Linked DNA regions of Homo sapiens. The protein of the gene in region 7 purifies or fractionates together with the protein of the main gene of each other region. This does not show direct contact. Each region holds a gene or a part of one and is shown on either strand. Other genes may lie near its edges.

What was found.
Region 1: the proteins of EFNB1 (region 7) and IPO9 purify together in Homo sapiens (affinity purification with mass spectrometry; one large-scale study listed by BioGRID and IntAct). This does not show direct contact.
Region 2: the proteins of EFNB1 (region 7) and FIRRM purify together in Homo sapiens (affinity purification with mass spectrometry; one large-scale study listed by BioGRID and IntAct). This does not show direct contact.
Region 3: the proteins of EFNB1 (region 7) and EIF2B1 purify together in Homo sapiens (co-immunoprecipitation; 2 studies listed by BioGRID and IntAct, with this or other methods). This does not show direct contact.
Region 4: the proteins of EFNB1 (region 7) and CIP2A purify together in Homo sapiens (co-immunoprecipitation; 2 studies listed by BioGRID and IntAct, with this or other methods). This does not show direct contact.
Region 5: the proteins of EFNB1 (region 7) and IPO8 purify together in Homo sapiens (co-immunoprecipitation; 2 studies listed by BioGRID and IntAct, with this or other methods). This does not show direct contact.
Region 6: the proteins of EFNB1 (region 7) and SACS purify together in Homo sapiens (affinity purification with mass spectrometry; one large-scale study listed by BioGRID and IntAct). This does not show direct contact.

The regions. Positions count from the first base shown.
Region 1 is NC_000001.11:201,827,837-201,831,956, reverse strand, and holds the start of IPO9 (importin-9), read right to left. Parts: upstream 2,801-4,120; 5' UTR 2,748-2,800; coding exon 2,585-2,747; exon of another isoform or gene 2,398-2,584; intron 1-2,397. UniProt on the Homo sapiens protein: Nuclear transport receptor that mediates nuclear import of proteins, such as histones, proteasome and actin. Serves as receptor for nuclear localization signals (NLS) in cargo substrates.
Region 2 is NC_000001.11:169,805,040-169,808,539, reverse strand, and holds part of FIRRM (FIGNL1-interacting regulator of recombination and mitosis), read right to left. Parts: intron 2,537-3,500; coding exon 2,452-2,536; intron 750-2,451; coding exon 611-749; intron 1-610. UniProt on the Homo sapiens protein: Regulates PLK1 kinase activity at kinetochores and promotes faithful chromosome segregation in prometaphase by bridging kinase and phosphatase activities.
Region 3 is NC_000012.12:123,623,687-123,627,186, reverse strand, and holds part of EIF2B1 (translation initiation factor eIF2B subunit alpha), read left to right. Parts: intron 1-30; coding exon 31-143; intron 144-693; coding exon 694-762; intron 763-2,324; coding exon 2,325-2,400; intron 2,401-3,500.
Region 4 is NC_000003.12:108,579,439-108,582,938, reverse strand, and holds part of CIP2A (protein CIP2A), read left to right. Parts: intron 1-736; coding exon 737-831; intron 832-1,427; coding exon 1,428-1,524; intron 1,525-3,250; coding exon 3,251-3,373; intron 3,374-3,500.
Region 5 is NC_000012.12:30,689,370-30,692,869, reverse strand, and holds part of IPO8 (importin-8), read left to right. Parts: intron 1-2,292; coding exon 2,293-2,374; intron 2,375-3,500. UniProt on the Homo sapiens protein: Involved in nuclear protein import, either by acting as autonomous nuclear transport receptor or as an adapter-like protein in association with the importin-beta subunit KPNB1.
Region 6 is NC_000013.11:23,423,703-23,427,202, reverse strand, and holds part of SACS (sacsin), read left to right. Parts: exon of another isoform or gene 1-236; intron 237-3,500. UniProt on the Homo sapiens protein: Co-chaperone which acts as a regulator of the Hsp70 chaperone machinery and may be involved in the processing of other ataxia-linked proteins.
Region 7 is NC_000023.11:68,835,521-68,839,020, forward strand, and holds part of EFNB1 (ephrin-B1 precursor), read left to right. Parts: intron 1-3,096; coding exon 3,097-3,374; intron 3,375-3,500. UniProt on the Homo sapiens protein: Cell surface transmembrane ligand for Eph receptors, a family of receptor tyrosine kinases which are crucial for migration, repulsion and adhesion during neuronal, vascular and epithelial development.

The DNA.
Region 1 (4,120 bases), on a different chromosome or scaffold from region 7:
GCACTCCAGCCTGGGCGACAGACTGAGACTCTGTCTCAAAACAACAACAACAACAACAACAACAACAACAAAAGCAAAAAACACTAAAATGTGAAGCAACACCAAAGAAGTGGAAAGTAGTTTGCAAGAATGGCTCATCTTGCTCTGTAGGGCATTCTAATAGGAGGAACCATGTCCTGCCAGTTTCATCAGGCCAGATAGTTGGCTAAATCCCGGCTGGAAAGCTGGGTTCTATGTTTTCATGTAAAGAAGGGTTGAGGCTGGTAAAGAAGCAGCTACTATATTGCACCATGTTCAGAAAACATCTGAGAGATTCAGACAGAGTTTAAGGTGGGAGGTACTCTGAACCCAATGTCAAAGATAACTTGTTAAAGGCCACAAGAGGAAGAAAGCAGACCGCATCTGAGGGAATGGACCGCCATTCTCCACCTTAAAACAGGTACAGAAGGGGGTAAATCTCTATAGTTTTTTTGATAGACATTAAGGAGCCAGACTACTTAAAAGACACAAGCAGCCTCCAAAGGGTCCGAAGCATTGCACTAAACTCCAGAGACTGATCCAACCCTCTAACCAAATCCAAAACCTGAGTCATATGCTCTATTACTAGATCACCAATATCAGGTCACTGCATCGATGCCTTTCCATACTTTTCATTCTCATAGTCTGCCCAACAGCACATTACCAGTAAGTTATGGGGGTCGGGGGGCAGTCGATCTATTTCTCATCAGTGACTTAGATCAAAATTCTGTACTTCTGAAATTTAATTTTTCACTTAAAGGCTCAAAAAGATGCCAGGTGTGGTGGCTGAGGCCTGTAATCCCAGCACTTTGGGAGGCCTAGGTGGGAGGATCGCTTGAGTCCAAAAGTTTGAGGCTGCAGTGAGCCATGATGGCATCACTGCTCCAAAGTCTACACGATAGAGCGAGACCCAGTCTCAAGAAAAAAAAGATGAATAAAGTGAGGAATCAGAGTTTCAAAAAAGACCTCGAGAACTTTATAATTGACTTTGCCCAGATGAGACCATGGCATTTGGCTAAAGTTGAAAAGATCAGAGCAAAAGTGGAGTTGTTGTAAGACAGTTTAAATACAAGTCAAGGTCCACCTTTCATACAAAGGTGCCAGACATGCATTTGGAGCACCAGGAGCACTGGGTACCACTCAGGGAAGGTTTAGTTAAGATGAATTTGCACCAGACTCTCAAGTTTTATTCAGGTGACAACTTGAATGTGATGAGGTTCCTTTGCTTTGTCACTCTTCCTTCCTCATACTCAAGGGGGACAGACATTAATGTGCATAAACGAATTTTATTTAGAAGCCGCTAAAAATTCCTTTAGATTAGTTTATACATGGTTCTCAAACAGCTTTCTCCTAACCAGTGGTTTCTCCTGTATAGATCTGATATTTTATAAAACAATGACAATTACAAGTGGGCCTTCAAAATGGTCCTTAGCCTGTTAGATCCCAAATCTTAACATATTTCCAACAGAAGAAAATTTGTTTTCAACAGCTCTTTCATACTGTGAAAGAATGTAAACTAAATTTAAGAGAGATTTGTTCTAAATTCTTTTCAATAGAAATACGTCCAGTAGGAGAGCTAACTGAAGGTTTTGAATATGATGGGTGTGTGATGGGACAATTTCCCATATCTCTGATGAAGTATTTAAGTGGTGGTGGAAATATTCCTGAGTTGGGAGATTCTGAGGATTTGGAGTTCCAGTGAAGCTCTGACCAGATATATTTCTTACACAAAGACCAAGAAGATTTCTCCTCCTGTTTCTGGATTAAATTGTTCTTTGTGGTAGCTACACTGGACCCGGTGAAAGGCTCACGCGGCAGGAAATTGATAGAAAATCTCGAACCAATGGTTTATTTTCTTCTCCATCACTTTAAAGCACACAATAGAGGACGGAGACAAAGAATCAAAAACAAAGGATGATCAGTTCCTCCAAACAGAAATGCACAAAGGTATTTAATAAGGGCAAATTATTTTTAAAATAAACGTTAAGTATGGTCAGGACAGTGAAGCAATCGCATATGCATTTAATTTCTGGGAAAACACGAAGAGTACAAACAACTAGCTAGGTTTATAACTCAGAGGCAGAAACTTGTTTGATGACATCTATTAAGCTTTGATAGCCGCCTTTTCGAGGCCCTACCCTTCACCACTCCTACTAATAGCTCCCCCTACTCTTATCCCAGTACAATCCAGCTGGTGAAGAGAACAGCGAAAGACTTTGGTCCTGGACTCAAAAAATATTTCCCCGACCGCGCTACTTCCTCCAACAGCACCAAGTCTAGCTCCATCTCCGTCCCCTGCAGATTCTAGGCTCCATCTATCTTTTCAAGTCTCCACCCTCCCTCCCCCACTCCCAGGCTCCACCTCCCCCGACCCTATCCTTCAGGCGCGCCTCTCCTCTCTCGGACTTTCACAACCACCAGCGACATCAATCTCTCGCTTCCTGCTCCACTTCTCGGCGCCCACATCTCCAACTGGCTCAGGCTCCCCATGTCCCCAGCCGGTACGGAGCTGCGGTCAGCGGATTGTGCGGCTGAGCCATCCTCGTGACGGTCCCGCCTCACTCACCCTCCGTCACCTCCAGCACCTTAATCTGTTCTTCAGCAGCCGCCCGCACCTCCTGTACTGGGGATAGGATCCCGGTGAGCGTATCCACTAACGCTTCCTTTAATCCTTGTGCCACTGGACCCGGCAGCCCGGAGGCCGCACCAGCTGCCGCCGCCGCCGCCATCTTTTCTCCCCTCAGCCCGCCAGCCCCGCGGCCGGGACCCGCCACCGAATGACGGCCCCCGCGCGCGGCCAATCCGCGAAGCCGCGCCTGCGCACCAGAGGCGGGCGGGAGCGGGCGGAGGGCGGGGAATGAATCTAAGCCTCCAGAGACAGCGCCTCCTGCTGCCTGAACGAGAACTGCACCTTTCTCTGCAAGGATCTCTGGATTTGTGTGAAAACTGAGCCCCAGACAGGTTAAGGGGCTTTCCTAAAGTTGCACAGTAAGTTAGCAATCTCATTTGGAATAAAGTTCATGATATATGACTTTATATTCATGCATCTTTCAGGTGTTAGGAGAGAGGAGGCGGGATGGGAATAGATGTAGAGGGCTTTAAGGAGAGAGGTCTGGGTCACAAATAGCCCCTATTTTAAACCACATTCTTTTCCCCCCAAACACTGAAAAAAAGTTGGCTCAAGTGACTCTCTTCATCTTAGCCTCAGGAATCCAAAGAGGGGGGAAAATAAACTAAAGCAAACTGGGAAGTGGAAGTGGGAAAACCACGGCCCAGTCCCTTGGTTTTCCAGCCTAGATGAGCCCAACCTCAAAGCTGGGAAGTGGCTGGGCAGGGGAGACACCGGCATGTGAAAGGGAGTTTCTTCCAGAGTGAGTGTTGTATGTGACTATTTGAGAATGAATCCTATTTGTTGAAAATGTATAAATTTTTTTCCCTGAGAAATTATGGCTGGACATTTAAGGGGTGCGAGAACAAGAGCAGTTTGATGATATGGTTGTCAGCAGCTGGTCGTGGGAAATGGCCTACGGTGCAGAGCCGCTCCTGAATAGCGGAGCAGGTGGAGAGGATGAGCGCTCCAGTGAGGTGTTAAAAATGCAGGGTGTGGCGAGGCGCAGTGGCTCACGCCTCTAATCCTAGCACTTTGGGAGGCCGAGGCAGGAGGATCGCTTGAGCCCAGGATTTCGAGAACAGCCTGGGCAACATAGCGAGACTTCGTCTCTACAAAAAAATACAAAAATTGCCCAGGCGTGGTGGCGTACGCCCTGTAGTCCCGGCTGTTCGGGAGGTGGAGGTGGGAAGATCACTTGAGCCCAGGAGGAGGAGGCTGCAGTGAGCAGTGATTGCGCCATTGCACTCCAGCCTGGGCGACAGAGTGACATCTTGTCTCAGAAAAAGAAGAAAAAGCAAGATGTAAGCCAAGGCAGGAGGATCACTTGAGCCCAGGAGTTCCAGGCTGTAGTGTGCTGTCATCACACCTATGAATAGCTACTGCATTCCAGTCTGGGCAAGATATACAGACTCTGTCTATAAAAAAAAATAAAAATTAAAAAAAATGCAGGGCAGAGTGGCAAGCATGTAGTGGCAGAAAGGATAGAATGTT
Region 2 (3,500 bases), on a different chromosome or scaffold from region 7:
AAATTGAGGGCTAGTCTGAAAGCAAAAGGTACTATGTATAACAGTGTTACAGGAAAATGAGTTATAATTCCCAATAATCGTACTACAAATTTTTAGAATATAATGTTTCATAAATGGGATACCAATTCAACACTCTAACTTTTCAAAATAAAAACAAATGTATGACTATATCAAATTTAAAAGACTGATACATACATATACATGCACAAACATACTTGTATCCCTAAAGGTCGCAATGCGTTGGTGAAGAAAAAATGCAAGATTGATTGCAGCTATATCAGATCTTATACAAATATGAACAAAAGAATTTTTGTTCTCATGCAGAAAAGAATGAAAGGATTCTGAGAAGAATGCTGTGACCAACCAGTTACCAAGCAAAGAGGGAGCCAGGCAGACCCCAGAGGCAATGACAGCAGTTAGGAATCTAATACAATGCTCTGGGTGAAAAGTAATTATGGGATATAAATAATCCCACAGATCAAAAAAAAACACCCAAATGAAATAAATTAAAATCCTCTTAAATAGACTGACCCAGACATTCAAATGAGATTTACTAACTGCCAAAGAAAATAAGAGTTGCTGTTTAAAATGCTATTAGCCCAAATTTTACCTGTGCATCTGACTGTGTCATCTGCTCAGCTAACTGTAAACAAGAATGGAAGGAGAAAAGAATGTCTTCACACAAGCTAGTAATTATATCTTTGTGTTTCAACTGGCTTTTTATTATGGACTGGTGCTTAAGGCTCTGCCTAAATGAATAAAAAGAAAAGAATACAATCACCACAAGTAACACATCAAGTAACTTAGGACCTCTAACAATATCTACCTTGTAGAACATTTAAAAAAACAATCAAAAAGCATCATATATCACATAATATAACTAAGATGTGCCCAGTTTACCTCTGAAGCAGTTATATTTGTTTAAATAAGTTGCTAATTTTTTCTCTGTGTAAAATATTAATTGAATTCTTACTATGTATGAGGCATTCTACCAGGCCCTGGAGACAAAGGGGTCAAACAAATGGACACAATCTCCGCCTTACCTGCATGAAACTTGTGGTCTAGCATGAGAGAGAATGTTAAATAATTTTAAGAATAATTAATTAGGGCTGTGATTTGTCAAATGACAGAGTCTAAGGTGCTACAATAGAGAGACCTAATCTAACTTATTCTTAGGGTAAGGATATCAATCTAACTTAATCTTAGGGTAAGGATATCAAAGAATGTTATCATGAAGATATAACTCTTAAGCTGAGAACTGAAAGACAGTAAGCAGGAGTTAGCAAGGTACACAAAATAGGAGAGAGAAGCATCCTAGGCAGATGGAAAAACCACGAAAAGACTCTGGGACAGGAGAGTTTGGTATGTTTGAGGAACTAAGAGTAGGGAGAGCAGCATGAGACAGGCTGGTGAAGGAGGCAGCATCCACAGAGGATTAGGTTGTTATTCTTAATCAAATGGGATAGACTTCAAGCAATAGAGTAACATGATCTGATTTACTTTTTAAAAGATCATTCTGCTGGGCAGAAAATGAACTGGAAGAGGGTAAGAGTGGAAGATAATCAGTGATGATGATAGTGATGTGGCTAATTCCTTGAGTATTAACTATGTGTCATGCACATTTCTAAGCATTTCACAGTGATGAACTCAATTCTCACTATAACCCTGTCAAGAAGTTGCTATTATTATTTCCATTTTCAGATGAGCAAACTAACGTTCAGAGAAATTAACCAAATAGCCCAAGGGCTCAGAAGGAGTAAATGATTTCAAGAATGGATTTAAGCACATGTGATACAGCTCCCAGGCAACACTCTTAACCACTGAATGGCAACTTAATGTCCTGGTAGTACAAGAAAAGTACCTAAGACCTGAAAATACACTGACCTTTAATGTTTTATGTATGTGTATAAAGTAGATATTCTTAACCATTTTTACATCTCAACCACATCTCCTCTCACCCCTAAGAATCTGATGAATGCTACAGGCACTATCCCTGGTGACCCTTTAAAATGCTTCAGTTTCAGAAAGTTAAAATTACTGTACAAATGGAATTAAGTGTGAACAACTTAAAAGTACCTAATGAAAAGATTATATTCAGTTTTAATTATAGTTATCAATTTATCTAATCCTAGAAATAGGATACTTGATAGCTGGTTAAACAACAGTAGCAGAAGAAAAGTGGTTAAGTTCTAGTCTGGCCCATGGCCCATTATTTCTGAAGTACTAGCTAACTAGGAAGAACATTTTTTTTAATTTTAGAGGCCACAGGGTAAAGAAGTCCAATTTGGCTTGAGAGCTACATGTAGAATATCTGGATTATCAGACAGCAGTGTCAGTGAACATTAAATTCACACAAAATGTTTTAAATGCAATCTAAAGAATCATGAATAATTAAGATTGGGGAATATGGAAAACATTTTCTAAAAAGTAAAAAATAACAAACAAACTTACTTAATTATAAACTTCCAAGTATTGGCATGAAATGCATGGTCCATACTGGAAATAACAGAGCAGATATCCAATAAAGAATGAATAACTGCAAAGAAAGATAACAGAACTTTTAAGACATCCAAATGTCATGGGGGTGAGTTTCTCCTATAATTAAAACTATCTACTGAACAATTTCAACATTTGATTGAATTAAAATACGTAACACAACTTGGAAACAGTTGTGTCAAAAGAATTATTTAAACTATTTAAGTGTCACACTTGTTAATGGTTTTTATAAATATTGAATATTAACTTCTGAAGTTTATACCTACCAGATGACCTAAATAAAACTAAAGATGTTCAGTGGAATAAAAGTTGTACCCTATTATAACTGAAATATTCTACAGATATAATTCTAATCCAAAATGACAAAACAAATTGCTAAGGAAAGAAAATCTAAAAAGGAAGAATTCAAATTAATATCCATGGTATTCATGCAAGGCTTTTACTCAGTCTGTGGTAGATTATTTATAAAAATGGCCACAATGACTGCCCTTTGTGAATCCACACTTTTCTACAATGACTCTGGGCTAAACGCTATGACCTGCTGTGGCCCGGGGGACAATAATAAAATTAAGGCAAGCAGAAACTTGAAAAGTGCTAGCACACAGCGACCTGCTCACACTTTTGCTACTCTTAGAAACCCTGAAACCACTGGCATCAGGTATCTGAGATAGGGTGAACCTGCTGGATGATGCACATGGCTTTCTCAAGTACTTCTGCCTCTGCCAACAGCCAGATGTGAATGAAGTCACTGAAGTCACATGGGTGAGCTAGTGCCCCAGGTGGATCAGAGAAAGTTGTCTCAGGACATCCCACCCTAAACTGCAGACTCACAGAATCATGAATAAATAAATAGTGAATAAATAGATTTTGAGGTGGTGTGTTGCAGAGCAACAGGTGCCTGATACACTGCACAAAACCAACTTACTCTCTTTATACCAAAGTTTTGAATGCAAACTTTGCCTTTATATTGTTTTTCAAACTCTTGTTCATAATCCATTAATGAG
Region 3 (3,500 bases), on a different chromosome or scaffold from region 7:
CCCCTTTGACAAAGCTTTCTCGGTCCACAGACAATATTGACTCACGCCTACTCCAGAGTGGTCCTGAGAGTCCTGGAAGCAGCCGTGGCGGCCAAGAAGCGATTTAGTGTATACGTCACAGAGTCACAGCCTGATTTGTCAGGGCAAGTACCTTTCTGTTCAGTTATGTGCCCAGCCATAATTTTACAGAGCAAACTGCGGATTACAGTCCAACAGGATCAGAACCAGAATGTGCCCCCAGCTTGCCAGCAGTCAGCACTGCCTTTCATTGTACCTTTTCCTGCCTTTGGAAGAAAAATCACTGAATTTGCAGCAGGCCGCAGTATATGATCTAGGGGTTTCACTTAAGTAGTTAACTCCGTGGAAGAGCAGAGATTGTATTGATGAAGATTTTTATCAAGGAATAGGTAACTTATATCTCCCTCTCTCTAGACGATAATCAAAGCAAAACTTCCTCCTTTTTTCCTGAATTTACATCTCTTACCCAGAGTCTAAGAGTATAGTTTTCCAAAAATACTTCTTTCTAAAGAACTCAAATTCTTGTTTCCTTAGTCCAAAGTATTGGGATCTGCCCCTTAACCCATTAGTATTAATGTGAGTTTCAAGCAAACATCCACTGTCCACATTAGGTGACATACATCACTGTGGTACTGTCTTGTACTTTCTCTAACGTTCTCAAAATGTCATCTTCAGTAAGAAAATGGCCAAAGCCCTCTGCCACCTCAACGTCCCTGTCACTGTGGTGCTAGATGCTGCTGTCGGGTGAGTGCCCATCTTCCCCAGCCATAATCACCTCCCCCACCCCATGCTGGCTTACAGCAAGTTTTCAGATTGAAAGTTTGAGTCCCGTTCATAAAGCCACACCAGGTAGCGTCCTACTTCTTAATTAATAGCTGCCCTAAACCAGCAAGCTTGTTATGAGGTTGTGATAGCATACAAAGAAGACAGAGCTGTAGGATGTTGGGGAGAGTGGGAGTTGTGTCTATAGCTTTATGGCTGTAAGTGTTGAGTTTGTTGTTGTTGTTGTTTTTGTTTGTTTGTTTTTTGTTTTTTTGAGATGGAGTCTTGCCCTGTTGCCCAGGCTGGAGTGCAATGGCATGATCTTGGTTCACTGCAATCTCCACCTCCCAGGTTCAAGCGATTCTCCTGCCTCAGCCTCCTAAGTAGCTGGGATTACCGGCGCATGCCACCATGCCACGTTAATTCTTTTATATTTTTAGTAGAGATGGGGTTTCACCATGTTGGCCAGGCTGGTCTCGAACTCCTGAACTCAGGTGATCTGCCCGCCTTGGCCTCCCAAAGTGCTGGGATTACAGGCGTGAGCCACCACGCCCAGCCAGTGCAAATGCATTTTAAGAGCAAAGTACAAAGGTCAGTTGGGATCAGCAGAGGGTAATCAGGGCTCTGTATTTCTGTGAAGACCTGGCTGTCCTCAGTGGCATACTGGGATGCTTTGTCTCACCTAGAAGATGCAGCTTGTGTCGCAAAGCCAAGTCACATGTTCCTGGGATTGTCAGTGTATTTCCCAAGAAAAAACAAGAGTAGTGATCTCTTGGAATGAAAACAAGATAGATGATTAAGGAAATTAGGAATGTGTTCAAAAGTAAGGATTTTGAGGAATTCTACTAATTGCTCATTTTAAAGACTAAATTGGCCTTCATCCTACCAGAAAGATTCTTAAGGTTGGGCACAGTGGCTCATACCTGAGGCAGGTGGATCGCTAGAGTTCAGGAGTTGGAGACCAGCCTGGGCAATATGGCGAAACCCCATCTCTAGGGCATGGTGGCATATGCTGTGGTCCCAGCTACCTGGGAGGCTGAAATGGGAGGATCGCTTGAGCCTAAGAGGTAGAGGTTTGGGCTGAGATCATGCCACTGCACTCTAGCCTGGGCAACAGAGTGAGATCTGGTCTCAAAAAAAAAAAGAAAGATTTTTAAAACTGCATAACACTTTTGTCCAACTTCAGATCTCATCAGATTTTAAAATTTTGTTTGGTTTGTGCTGAAGTAGAAAAGAAAGTAGAGGATACCACACTTGGAAGGAAGACTGCTGTGTCAGGACATTCTTGCTTCACTTACACACATATGTACGTGTGCATGCGCCGGGCGGCAGTGTGAAGTGTATGTCTCATTGTAGGGTCATGACCAGAAAACACCCCTGGTAACAATGCCAGGGGTCTATCGCGTGTTAAGTGCGCTTTAAAAAAAACAGGTAGTTATGGGAGGAACTTACCTTGATAGAAATGGAATATTGATCTTTGCAGATGATGATGCTACTCGTTAGAGCCAAGAAAATAAAGCATGAAAAGCTTTTTTTCCCCTTAGCTACATCATGGAGAAAGCAGATCTTGTCATAGTTGGTGCTGAAGGAGTTGTTGAAAACGGAGGAATTATTAACAAGGTAAGAGCATCAGTTCTCCCCAGTTCCCTGCTCAAGACTTGGAGGTGTCTTGCTGACCTAGGACACCACAGCAGTGTTGATTATGGTTCCTTCTAATCCTGCTTCACTTCAGGACTTCATCATGGTATTGAGTTGTTGCCCATTTCCCGTAAGTCATAGCAATGGGCAGTCCAGTTTCAGTCAAATCTTTTTTAGATTGATCTACATAAATGAAGACAATGTAATTTGGTCAGGTGTGATGCCTTATACCTGTAATCCTAGCAATTTGAGAGGCCAGGGTGGGAGGATCACTTGAGGCCTTGAGTTCAAGACCAGCCTGGGCAACATAGTGAAACCCTGTCTCTACAAAAAATTAGAAAAATTAGCTGGGCGTGGTGGTGCTTGCCTGTAGTTCCAGCTGCCCAGGAAGCTGAGGCAGGAGTATCACGTGAGCCCAGGAATTTGAGGTTGCAGTAAGTTATGATCACACTACTGCATTCCAGCCTGGGCGATGGTGAGACCCTGTCTCAGTAAAAAAAAAAAAAAAAAAAGTGTAATTTATATTTATACAAAATTGGCTTGAATTGGAATTGGGGTTTGTCTGGTTTTTGCTTTATTTATGTGTATATGTATGTTTTATTTATGCATATATATACACACACATAATATATATACACAAATATTTTTAAAATATTATTTATATATTTACATATAAAGTATGTATGTATAAAATACGTGTATTTATATATAAATATTATATATATTTTAAAATAGAGACACATTCACTCTGTTGCCCAGGCTGTAGTGTAGTACAGTGATCATAGCTTACTGCAGTCTTGAACTCCTAGCCTGAAGCAATCTTTCCACTTCCCAAAGTGCTAGGATTACAGGCATGAGCCACTGTGGCCGGCCTGTCATTTGTTTTCATTTTAATTGAGCACATTTGACCTCAATTTATTACAATCTCTCTCTCCATTATTTAATTTAGAAAAGCTTCATGAAAGCTTTTTTTAGTTAAAATATATGTAACATAAGGCCGGGCGTAGTAGCTCACGCCTATAATCCCAGCACTTTGGGAGGCTGAGGCAGGTAGATCATCTGAGGTCAGGAGTTCGAGACCA
Region 4 (3,500 bases), on a different chromosome or scaffold from region 7:
GTCAGATCAAAATTGATAGTTTCTGTCATAAACTGCTGACTTACAGTGTATATATGCTATATAATAAATACTACATGATTAGGCACAGTTCATCTCATTAAAAGCTGGTTGCACACATACAATTTAAATGTTTCTAGAGAAGAGAAGCTTATCCATTTCTATCACCACTATTGAAGAAAAACAAATCTACATTATAACTGCTTTGACTTATAAACACAGATGTCTGTGTTTTGAGACATAAGCTATTTATATTAAAATTGTAACGTGAGTTGGCATCTAGTCTCAATCTGTGGAGGAAACGTTCTACAAAAATTAAAGCTGTAGATAGAGTCTATTTAATATAGATTCAAAGCTCTTCATATTTCATTGACTCTAAAATGTCATCAATTGTAAGAAAGAAAAACATCACAAATTAAATTGACATGCAGTTTTAGAGGTGATAAAATGTGAAGAAGGGTATCTTCTAATTGATGGACTACATGTGTGTTTCAAACTGCATTCAAGTTTAAGATGACTAAGTGAACAAGGTTGATAACCATGCTCTGAGACAGAATACGTAGAAATGTGTGAATTGAGAGAAGAGCCCTAAGGTTCTTACATTACTTTACATGTGTTTTTTAAAAAAATTGTTTTAGGAAATGGAAAAGGACATGCTCAGAATGTGCCTGAGAGTCCATTATTTTAAGCAGGCAATGTTTTTATATCTTTATATTTATAACTATTTTCTTATTCTCAGTGCATTCAACTTCTACAGAAGTTAACATATAATGTCAAAATTTTCTATTCTGGTGCCAATATAGATGAATTAATTACGTTCCTGATAGATCACATGTGAGTATGCAATCAAACATAAAACCAAATAGTTTATTTGTTTATTTTTAAATTACAACCATGTGGTAGATTAATTTTTCTTAGATAACATTTTCTAACATATAAACTGAGTGAGACTCCGATTCTTATTTGTTCTGCCCAGATGATTTTAAGGATCAAAAGTTGTAAAAGTATGTGACCTCATTCATTGGTGAAAAAATGTAAAAAGGAAAAAAAAATTGTAAAGCAACTTTAATTTTCATAAGAAAAATTTATGGACTGAATTGATTTGGCCAGAAAAAAATTACTGAAATTGAAAATTGTGTAGTTATTCTTGTAGGAAAATATACTGATGAAACAGCACATGGTCCACGCTGACAGTTACTTCCATGTTTTCATGATGGAATTGAATAGGGTAATTTGGTTTTAAAATGAGATAAATGATCAATACTATTCAAAGCTTCCCTGGCTTCTTATGTTAATTAGTTTTTTTTTTTGCGTGTAAAAGGGAATTGAAATGTATAAACTTAACTATATCATTTTGACTTAGAATAATGTTAATGCTTTTTTTCTTTTACTATTTTTTCTTTAAACAAAACACCAATGTAAAACAACAGTCAATCTTCTGAAGATGAGTTAAAAATGCCTTGTCTAGGATTATTGGCAAATCTTTGTCGGCACAATCTTTCTGTTCAAACGCACATAAAGACATTGGTAAGAAGTTTATTTCTTTTTAATGTTTCTTGTTTTATGGTAGATTCTCTGCTTAAAGAAAATTGTATTTATCTTTTTCTTTAAAACAAATTTGAACAAGGATTCTGTGTCTTATCGGATGACCCATCAAAATTAAGAGTCAGATTGACATACAAATAACTTGAAGCACTTCAGCCTTCGTGTATGTTGTATTGAAGACTGTGTGTTAAGGGTTAATGCAAACACTTATTTCTAAAAGTTTTCCTCAGCATGGCATCCCATTATTTATTACATTGAGTAGTACAAGAATTACTAAATTATTTTGTGCTCTTAGAAGGGAGGCACATCACTGGCAGTCCCATTTATCTCAGTCTTGTGTTTCCACAAAATCAATGGCAACCCCACCAGAAAGATTCATGAGTTAAGTGCTCAGTATGAACCAACAGTACTTGTGATAAATGAAGACACACAAATGAATTTAACTGAATCACTTTTAGAAGTATATTAAATCAGCTGGGCATGGTGGCTCACACCTGTAATCCCAGCACTTTGGAGGCCAAGGCAGGCAGATCACAAGGTCAGGAGATGGAGACCATCTCGGCCAACATGGTGAACCCTGTCTCTACCAAAATACAAAAAATTAGCCAGGCGTGGTGGCACACGCCTGTAGTCCCAGCTACTTGGGAAGCTGAGGCAGGGGAATTGCTTGAACCCGGGAGGTGGAGGTTGGAGTGAGCTGAGATCGCGCCACTGCCCTCCAGCCTGGCAACAGAGTAAGACTCCATCCTTAAAAAAAAAAACAAAGTATATTAAATCAAGCAAGTCACTGATTCTTTAAGGTGCTTGGTGAACAATTTCCCTGCTGTGCTATTCAGCATTACCCGTTCGATTTTAAATTTAATATCTCACTTGTTCAAGTGCTACATTTTTCTGCCCTGGTCTTACTTTGGAGGTGGAGTAACTGTGTGTGTGTGTGTGTGTGTGTGTGTGTGTGTGTGTTTCAATTTCTGAATTGAAAAAAAAGTTCATATGTTCATATTTAGGAAACACTTAAATATAAGGAAGAATAAACATTTGCTCATAGTTTCATGTGTAGAAACTGCTCTTCACCAAGATTGTGGCTATCTATATGACTGTCAGCAATATACGAAACTACCCATCTTGCTCACACATGCAGTGATCTCTTAAATCTAAATGCTAATCAGCAAATATGGCAAAGTTAATTGCTGCTCCACGGTGTGTAACGTAAAACAAATTCTTAAATTTGCTGAATTTTTTTTGCTTCCACCACAATTATGAGAGTTCCTCATTACAGTTCTTTTGTTAACACAAATGCTAACAAATGCTACAGTTCTTTTGTTAACACAAATCCTGCAGTATTTAAGGTAGCTCTTTTGTTTCCACTCTGCATGTGTCCCTTTATTAGAATTGACACCCTGATTTACCATCATTGAATTATTTATTCTAAGGTGACAAAACTTTGGAAATATTTATCTCCAACTCGTTTGCACGCATTTACCAAATTATTTTTTTCTGTAGGTACTCTCTTTATAACAATTTTTGAATTTAAATTTATCTCTGATCTAAATTTCTCCTGTAGAACATTTATCTTTTAAATGCAACAATCATTTAATAGAGTTGATAATGATGTTTAATAAAAGTTTGCCCACTCTGTGCAAGATATACTTTTTAAACCAAAACATAAAATTTATAATTCTAATTTATTTTTTAACTTTTTTTTCCTCAGAGTAATGTGAAATCTTTTTATCGAACTCTTATCACCTTGTTGGCCCATAGTAGTTTAACTGTGGTTGTGTTTGCACTTTCAATATTATCCAGTTTGACATTAAATGAAGAGGTGGGGGAAAAGGTAAATACAATTTTTCAAATTTATTCTGAAGTTTATAGTCTGATATTTTAAAAGTCATTGAGACTTTTTTATTTTTACCTTTTAGGATGGTGTCAACTTAATTTTTTGTCTAATATGCTTTTTCTAA
Region 5 (3,500 bases), on a different chromosome or scaffold from region 7:
GTGTTGGGATGTATAGCCATTCTCTGAAGAATGGCATTGAGTAGAGAGTTGGATGTTGTGAAGGAATGGGCCAGGCAAAGAGCAGAGAGAGGAACAACAGTTCAGAAAAGGCCCTCAACTTGGCGTGCTGGAGGACTGAGAGGGAATATCGGTTCAGAAAAGGCCCTCAACTTGGCATGCTGGAGGACTAGAAAGGTTAATGCAGCGGAGCAGTGAGTCAGAGGATGGGAGGAGACATCAGTTTTTTGCTTTATGAGTTCTCATAAATGCAGAATTTAGTTAAGCAAACTGCGTATTTGCAGAAAACTTCACAGATACAAAATATCCTCAGGAAATCATTGAGAAATTAGTCTTATTTATTTTTTAGAAACTCGAAGCCTGAAGAGGCACAAAGAAATTGAGTAACTATTTCTGAGTAAAGTAGTATGAAAATATATCTGACTATATCTCTGAATGTTTTAGCTGGCCAAGTTAATATAGAATGAATCAATGCTGAAAGAAGACAAGGTTTCTGAAATTTTTTAAAATGGCAAACAGTTGCAAAAAGAGGAGTTTCAAAATCTGTACAATGGCAACAGTGTTGACATAAAAGTCTCTGCAATAGGTATATTACTTTCAAATAAGTAGCATTTATTTAAGTGTAAAGGTTATTTTGTATGTGTGGAATAAGATTTTTAAACAAATAACGGAAGTCAGTTTTTTTATGATTAGAATAAACTATATAGATGTTTTAATCTTTGATTCATGACAAGATCTTTCAGTATTTACAAAGATAAACATGAGTTATAATACATATGTAGAAGGTGAAGGCTGGGTGAATCTGTGTTAATTTTGCCTCCTATCAACGGTTGTTAGAACAAATCTGTTTTCTTAAAAACTGCTTTGAAATTCTGATGGTTTCAATTATGGATAAAAAAGAATTTACATGCCACAGATTTGTGATCTGAAGACTACACAGGATGAAAGGAAGAAAATTATAATTCAAAATTTTGTGAAGGATATAGAAAGATTGGGAAAGCACAATGTTCTTGGATGAAAAAGATTAATATTTTTAAAATGCCAGTTGTGTCCAAATTAATTTTTTAATCAAACACTTACCTTCATAGATGTGATTTTAATTTAAAAAAATGAATAATATGCCCAAACCTAGCTGTGTATTGAAAGGGATGCCCCCACAGATCCAGGCTCTGAGGAGAGGGGTGAGCTGAACAGACTCTCTGGGTCATTGTCTGGTTTGGCCTCACTGGAATTTGAGTCTTTTCAAATGAATGTCAGTGGACAAAGGCATATGTGGACTCTGGAATGTGACAGGACTGTAATATAGTCCAGGTACTGTACATCTGGATATAACGTGATCAGAAGGAGTGGATGCTCTGTATTTTTTTGCTTTGAAGGTCCCCATCGCCAAACTCAGGAGCAGATCATAGTAGAGCACACCTGTGGGGTGAAGTGACCCAGGCCACAGGGCAGAGCAGGAGCTTCATCCCCACAGGCTCACTTAGGCATTAAGTGTAAAAGATAGTACAGCAGTAGAGGGCAGCTGGTGATGACAGTGTGCTCAACCCCATCTCGTGAGTCACACTGTTCCAATCTGGACTGGCTTCTCTCCATTGCTCACGCTCAACTTTGTAACATTATCTTCTCTGTTTTGCTCTGTTGGGTCTCCTATTTCCTGTAGCCTTTGTTTTTTTGTTTTCTGTTTGTCAAAAATACCATAAACAAAATTGAAGCACAAATAATCTAGGAAGAAATACTTGCCATGTATAGGTCAAATAAAAGATTGAGATTTTAAATTCATAAATAGCTCTTAGAATTTATTAAGAATAAAGCAAATACTCCATTTACAAAAGGATAAAGGGAGTAAGGAATTTGTAGAAAAAACAGCCAACAAAGAGGAAAACACCCAACCTCCTTAGTAATAGAGAAAATGCAATTTAAAACATTAATAAAATTTTAAAGTTTCAAAGGAATGATGATACCTGTATTAGATAGATGGACACTACCATATGCTGCTGTTGGGAGTGTAAATTGGTATACTACTTCTGGAGACCATTCTGACAATATGTTAAAAAAAATCATAAAAATGTTCACATTCTTTTATTCATCAGTTTCTGCTCAGGAAATTTTTTTGACTTGAAGTATTTTAGTAATCTTCATTTTGCCTTGAAGGGTTTGTCTCAGTTTAAAAGTTTTTCTTTTATTTGGACAGTAATGTATTCAGTAACCGGTGCTAACTTATAAGCTACTCACTTATATTGCCCTATTTTATAAAACATTTCTTTGTAATTTCAGTCCTACAAGATTATCAATTTTGCCCCCAGTTTACTTCGGATTATAGTCTCTGACCATGTGGAATTCCCAGTACGACAGGCAGGTGAGTTGGTTTTTTATCCTTTATAAATTTATTTATAGGTGAGAGTAGAATGAGAGTTTTATTTTAATTTTACATATCTGTAATTTATTGAAAAATTCAGAAGCACTAGCACTCATGAAGTATTTCCAGTGACTTCAAAACTCACTTTCTTTTTCCCCAGAAATTTAGAGGTAGATACTGAGCTCTCAAATATCTTCTAGCTCTTTTTTTTCCTCCTCTCCCTTTTACCCACCAATTCCTTGCCTCTGTAACTTTGCCCTTATTTTTCTCAATTTTAATAGCTGATCTCTCTAACGTTTTATGATTTCTGGTAGCCTAGCCTCTGGGCCCATAGATTAAGACCATGAATTTATATATGTGAATTCGAGCTCTGTTACGTGGCAAATCATGGAGGTAATGTGTTGCACAGATGTTCCTAACCCAGGTGACTGCGGAGCAGGACTATGTTTTAAACATGAAACTTACTTTTAAGTCTGTGGGATCTTACGTTGTTTCATGATGTTGTACATCGTTCTTTTATCTTGTTTTTTTATGGACTGGTCATTAGAGCCCAGAAGGTTAAAAATTAGAGCCTTAGAGTATCATGAATTTTCAAAAGATAATAATCAAAAGCTAAAGGAGGTAAACGACAATAGCTAATTAAAAATAAGTATTTAAAAAGACTTGTTATGTAAGTGACATATACATGTAAGTAATTTGGACAATTTAGAAGAATACAAAGAAGGAAGTAAAACTACCCAACATTCATCACTCAGAAATGGCCATCATTACTCATCATTAACGTTAGGTGAACATTAGCCTTTCCATGTGTTCACGTAGAAGGATAGATGAACAGTTTCAGAGAAATGGGTCATAATCTACATGCTGATGAAAGTATTTAATTTGATTTGAACATAGAATAAAAAGATAAAGAAATATTAAGCTTTGGGAAGATTTATAACACTATATATGATTTCCTGAAAGATCACTTTGTGGTTAAGATAAAAAAGAAAATCCTATGGAAAAACACTGATGTTGGAATTATTTTTTGCTTTTATAAGGTTTACAAGACTTCTGTGTAAATTTTTGAAACCACAATTGGCACTTGTTTCATCTTTGTTTTATAAAATAGGGCTGTTCTGGAATA
Region 6 (3,500 bases), on a different chromosome or scaffold from region 7:
TAATATTTGCAAAAACCGTCTGCAGTTGACTAAATGCTGTTAGAACACAGCTCAGTTTGGTGTTGCGGTGATACAGTTCATGGATAAGGCAAGCTGGCCCTGTTTAGGGATGAGGAAAGTTGGGCACAGCGAGATTATGCGATTCTCAAGCCATGGTGAGGAGAAGACCGAAGAATGTTCTCTTCCATCAGGTGGTGCTACTCCCCAAATGGTAGGGTAGAAGCAGCGTTCCTCTTCTGAAAAGAAAGAGAAGGAGGAAGAAGGAAATGAGGTTTGAGGGGGTGAAAGGAAAATATCTTAGGCCCCCAAAATCACTAAGGAAAACTCAACCCAGGAACTGCTTAGGGCAAACCTGCCTCCCATTCTATTCAAAGTCACTCCTCTGCTCTCTGAGATAGATGCATATCTGATTTGCCTCCGTTGGAAAGGCTAATCAGAAACTCAGAAGAATGCAACCACTTGTGTATCACCTGTCTGACTCACTTCCAGTCTTCTTGCTTTTGCTTCAAGTTGTCCCCCCTTTCCAGACCAAACCAATGTACTTCTTTTTTTTTTTTTTTTTTGAGACGGAGTCTCACTCTGTCACCCAGGCTGGAGTGCAATGGCATCATCTCAGCTCACTGCAACCTCCACCTCCCGAGTTCAAGCAATTCTTCCATCTCAGCCTCCCGAGTAGCTGGGATTACAGGCACCCACCATCATGCCGGGCTAAATTTTGTATTTTCGTAGAGACGGGGTTTCACCATGTTGGCCAGGCTGGTCTTGAACTCCTGACCTCAGGTGATCTGCCCGCCTTGGCTTCCCAAAGTGCTGGGATTACAGGCGTGGGCCACTGCACCTGGCCTGTACTTCTTACATATACTAACTGATGTCTCATGTCTCCCTGAATGTATAAAACCAAGCTGTGCCCTGACCACCTTGGGCAAATGTCATCAGGACTTCCTGAGGCTGTGTAAGGGGTGCGTCCTCAACCTTGACAAAATAAACTTTATAAATTAACTGAGACCTGTCTCAGATTTTCTGGGCTCACTGAAGTCCTATACTTGTGTCAGGCACTCAGTCGTGGGGAATAAGTAAGAGCTGGGAGCCACCGGGATTTAAACGAAGTATGGGCTGTTGCTGGACTCTTCTGGACACCAGTTTCCTTCTCTGTATAATGAAATTCACAATTCCCTACCAAATCACTAGGCTGTTATGAGACTGAAATAAGATCATCCCTATGAAATCACTTTAACAAATCTAAAATACCATGCCCCTGCAAGGTAATCTTATTGTATTGCATTTTAATTTTACTACCAGTATCATTCCAATTGTATAAAAATTTTGTATATACTAATATTCTCTGCCTTGTCACACAGACCCCCGGCGGCCATGCTCTAGCTCATAGGCACGAGCCCACTCCCGCAGGGAGTCAGGCGGGGTGGAGCTTCGGGGCCCCAAGTCCAGCACCCACCTGAGATCTTCACACCCTGAGCAGAGCAGTCGGGGCAACTTAACTGGGCACCAAGTGGGCAAAAATGGCGCCTTCCCCACCACATGTGCAGAAGGGTGAATTCCTGGATGTTGAGGGGTGGGGGCACAGAAACTCCCTGCCCGCTCTCCCCAGGAAGAGGGCAGGGCCCATGGGGACAAGGATTCCCACCTCTTCCCCACCACCATGGACATAAGGCCTTAGTGGACACCAAGGCCCCAGCACGACATCAGGCCCCAAACGACACTGGACTCTAGGTGGACACTGGACATCAGACACCAGGTTGATGCCAGGCCCTAGTCAAGTGGACTCCAGTCCCTGCATAAACATCAGGTCCCAGTTTGGCACATAGGCCCCAGGTGGACACCAGGCCCCTGGTGGATGCCCAGGTTAATACCAGGCCCCAGGTGGACACAAGGTCCCAGGTACATTCAGGTCCCGGGTGGAAACCAGGCCCCAGATGGACATCGGGCATCTGTATGTCAGGTCCCAGGTGGACACATAGGCCCCAAGTGGATGTCTAGTCCCCAGGTAAATACCAGGGCCAAGGTGAACAGGAGGCCCCAGGTGGACACCCTGACCCCAGAGGACCATCCAGCTCGAGGTGGACGTCAGGCCCCAAGTGGACACCAGTGTCCAGATGGACATCAGGCCCCAGGTAGACACTCGACTTGAGGTGTACACCAAGCACCAGGCTCACGCCCAGGCCCCCGATGGATACAATGAAACAACAGGTTCCATTCAGTGATATAATAAAGCACATCCCAAAGCTCCTTCACCCATATCTTCATGATAATTAACTGAGCTGGATAGTCACATGTTCATATATAGGCCTAATAACCTCAGAAATGTAATTGTTTAGATTCTACAAAACCTGTGTTTGGACTTGTTTAATGGAAACTCAGGTTCCATTCAGTGATTTAAAACAGCACATCACAAAGCTTCTTTGTACATAGCTTGGTTTTCGTTATTAGTACTGGACGTTCATATGTTGATATATAGGCCTGATAGCCCCTGAAATGTCATATCTGAGATTCTACAAAACATGTGTTTGGAACTTGCTTCATGGAAACACAGGTTCCATTCATTTATATAAAACAGCACATCAGAAAGTTTCTCCTCACATAGCTTGTTTTTCATTATTAGGGCTGAAAATCTATGTAGGTACAATAGTCTCTGAAATCTCATTTCCTTTTTTTTTTTTTTGAGACAGAGTTTCCCACTTGTTGCCCAGGCTGGAGGGCAGTGGCGTGATCTCGGCTCGCTGCAACCTCCGCCTCCCGGGTTCAAGTGATTCTCCTGCCTCAGCCTCCCAAGTAGTTGGGATTACAGGCATGCGCCACCATGCCCGGCTAATTTTGTATTTTTAGTAGAGCCGGGGTTTTTCCATGTTAGCCAGGCTGCTCTCGAACTCCCGACCTCAGGTGATCTGCCCGCTTTGGCCTCCCAAAGTTCTGGGATTATAGGCGTGAGCCACCATGCCCGGCCTGAAATCTCCTTTCTTAGATTCTCCAAAACATATGTTTGGAAATTGTATAATGGAGATTCCAGTTGCATTCAGTGATATAATAAAGCACATCAGAAAGCTTCTTCACACATAGCTTGTTTCTAGTTATTAGTAGTGGATATGTGTATATTCATATATAAACCCAATAACCTCTGAAATGTCATTTTTGTAGATTCTACAAAACATGTTTGAAACTTGTTTCATAAAAACACAGGTTCCATTCAGTGATATAAAACAGCACATCACAAAGCTGTTTTTAGTTATTAGGGATGGATACTCGTATATTCATATATAGGATAATATCCTCTGAAATGTCATTGCTTAGGTTCTAAAAAATGAGTGCTTGTAACTTGTTTAACAAAAACACTGGTTCTTCTCATTCATATGAAATAGTACATCCCAAAGCTCAAAGCTTCTTCACACATAGCTTGCTTTTAGTTATTAAGGCTCCGTATTTTTATATATAGGCCTAATAGTTTATATATAGGCCTAATAGCTTCTGAAATCTCATTAATTAGATTC
Region 7 (3,500 bases):
ATACACCCATCCCTTATGGCCCGTTACCACTCTCTTGAGCTTCTGACAGGTCAAGACGAGGTTTGCCCAGTGGTCGGGAAGATGCTAAGGTTACCAGTATGGGGGATCAGGGTCAGGGAAGGCGGGTCTCATCAGGCTCCGCTCCCTTCTGCACTTCAGGGGAAGGTGAGTTTCCCTCTGCCAGCTGCCATGCAAATGAACTAATGAATATTTATGAAGTCTGTTCACTGAGGTTGAAGAGACTCTGAGGGGTTTTGGGGGCAATAGTTCTCTCTTCTCCCCCCTCCTCCATCATGTAGACATCTGTTTCCTCAATGCCTCTGGCTTCAAGGTAGAACCCCAATTAGCTAGAAGCCCTGTTCCAATTCCAGGGCTCTGGAACCTGGGTGGCAATGGGAGACTGCACTTGGGGTAGACAGGACTCCCTGGTGAGTAAGCCAGAACCGAGTGGTTAGAAAGCTGAGCTGGCCTGTCTCCCTTTCCGTGCCCTCTATGTAGCTGCATATATATGTGTTGTTAAGATGCAACAGTACAAGGATTCAGGTAATGTTTTAGGGCCTCTTAGACCCATCGGGTTATTGTCCTGGGTAGGTTTAGACCCCTCTTTTCAATGGGAACATTCATCTGATCATTCATTCCCTCACATGAAGGGCCTGGACTCTAAGGTTCCTGCTGGCTCTAAGATGTGAGCAGTTGTCTAATCCTGCCATCTGGATGGAACCGTTGTGAGCACTGGAAAGGGAAAAAATGCCTGGAGAATTCTAGAGGCTTTGGGGAAACTTGTTGGCTTTGTATGGTGCATGGGACAGGGGTATTCCATCTGAAATGTTTATCCAGGCTTCCATCCCATGCCTACTTCCTTTCTGGGCCCTCTATAGTTAGGTACCAGTGGGGAGGCCATCTCATTCTGGCTTTTACCCTCCTGCACATCAAGATGGCAGCTCCCAATTTGGTGGAGCCTCACTCGACATGGAGGAAAGGCTGCTTTTCTTCGTCCACTTCATCCATGTGGTCAGTTTCCCTCTTCGCCTACTTGGGTATCATTTCCCTCCCTCAGATGAGGACACAGGTTTGGCATTGCAAAGGCATTTGCCCAGAGTTCCCAGTAGGCCGGTATTGCTTGTAGTACCTTTGGTGTAATGGGCCCTCAGGAAATGGAACCACTCTTTTCTCAGATGATTGTGGTAGCCTGTGAACTGGTGCATGACACTGTCAGCTTCATTCTCTTTAAGCACTGCCTGAAGCCTTCCATTGTCCTTCCTGCTCTGAGAGCCTGTCTCCAATGGGATGAAACCCACCCTGCTTGCTGTGACCCTTGAAGCCTTTCAGTCTGGCCCCAGGTGAACTTTTCACCTCTTCTTCTGTTTCTCTCTTCTCACTCCCAGCCAAGCTGGACCAATCACTGGCCTGGGCTTTGTGTTGTAGCCACTGCTGTCTACTGTCTCAGTGTGTTGACTTCTTATTCCTCACCTAAGACCCACTTTCATCCTGCCTTTCCTGTGGATACATCTCTGACCATCCTGGTCAGATGAGCTATCTCTTTCTTCTCCCTGCCTCCAGCCCTTGCTGCTTGAATCATCATCCTCACACATACCTACAGATAGCCTGGTGTTGTCTATCACTCGAGTATGGGTTATTTACTTTTCTGACCCAAACTGGACAGTAAAGTCCTTGACGATGGAGCCATATCTTCTCTTCCTGTTTCCCCTCCAAAATATGAGAGTGAGCTCATAGGTACTTAGTGTTAGTATCTGACCTCCTGCCTCTTGGGAGACTGCTTCTAAGAGGCAGTCAAACATGTTGAACGCCTATTGTGTGCTAGGTGTTCTCCATGTGCTGCCTTGTCTCCCCACCACAATATTGGAAGGTAGGGGCTCTTGCCACCCCCACTTTACAAGAGAAGAAACTGAAGCTCAGAACAGGCAGCTCATCCAAGGTCACAGAGTTAGTAAGGGCCTAGCTTTGGAATCTGATTCTAAAGTCTGTGTTCTTTCTCCTACATGGTTCTGCCTTGCTCTCAGCACCAGCCCATCCAGTCTCAGAAATGGCCAATGGAGCACCATTTTCTTTCTGTGTGCTTAGGCAAGGACAGAGTCCTATGGATAGGTGGTCCTGGGCTGCTGACCCTCCCTGCTGTCCCCCAGTGCCTGGCCTTCTGGATTAGAATATGAACCTGGCTCAAAAGGCATTTGTCCATCTCCTCTCAGGAGCTGGAGTAGGAGCAACATAGAGGTGACAGGTTAGGATACAGATGAGGCCCTATCTTCTATGATCTGTTGTCTCTGGTTGAGCCCCTTCTCTTCTCCTCTGTTCTTTTTAAGAATGAGATGAATCAAGTTTAGGAATTCAGGCTCTTGCATTTTGAGGGTGGGATGAATTGCCAGTAGGACAATAGGCAGTGGGAGTGAGCAGAGCTGCACCTGGCCAGAGACTGTGGCCATCATCCCTTTGCTCCAGGCGATGCCTGTTCCTATCTTTCCATCATGACCAAGATTAGTAAGGATGGGGGAGAAGACATGGGTCCCAGACAGATTGAGCTCCCCCAGCCTTTGGCTGGGAGCTGCGGGGAGTGGTGACTAAGACATGTGTGGGCTTGCTGTGTGTGTGTGTATGTGTGTGTGTGTGTGTGTGTGTGTGTGTGTGTGTGTGTGTGCGCGCGCGCGCGCGCACGTGTGTATGGGTATAGGAGAGGTAGTAGCAGCGGTCATGAAGGAATCTTTGTTGGGGGTGGGGGTATATAAGACTGCCACCTCCAGGTAGCATGGGCCTGACACCTTGGTACCCAGCCCATTGGCCACGTCAGCCCCCTGCGGAAATGCCACATTAGGACAAAGGGCTCCCCCAGCCAGGCAGTGCTCCACCCTGCCGAGCAGTCAGAGCCTGGCAGCCTTGCCCATGGGCCACCCCTTCCACACTCTCCTGGTAGTGTGGTTCTCTCTCCCCACCCCCAGCCTGAGGATGGAGGAAGGGCAGAAGGCTTGCTCTTGCCATCTCCACCCAGTAGGCCCAGCCCGGCTCTTGTCCGCTTCCCTGGTTCTGGAATGGCCTGGGGCCACCCCCAACCCTGAGGCTGACCATCTTCTTCCTTCTGGGCAGGTTCCTGAGTGGGAAGGGCTTGGTGATCTATCCGAAAATTGGAGACAAGCTGGACATCATCTGCCCCCGAGCAGAAGCAGGGCGGCCCTATGAGTACTACAAGCTGTACCTGGTGCGGCCTGAGCAGGCAGCTGCCTGTAGCACAGTTCTCGACCCCAACGTGTTGGTCACCTGCAATAGGCCAGAGCAGGAAATACGCTTTACCATCAAGTTCCAGGAGTTCAGCCCCAACTACATGGGCCTGGAGTTCAAGAAGCACCATGATTACTACATTACCTGTGAGTCCCGCCCATCCCATCCTCTGGCTCTCTCCCTGGGCTTAACTCTTTCCTCTCCTGTAGTAGTGGGAGCTTCTAAGTGGTGCAATGCTATTGCATGTAGTTAAGACCCTGCTGGATCTGATC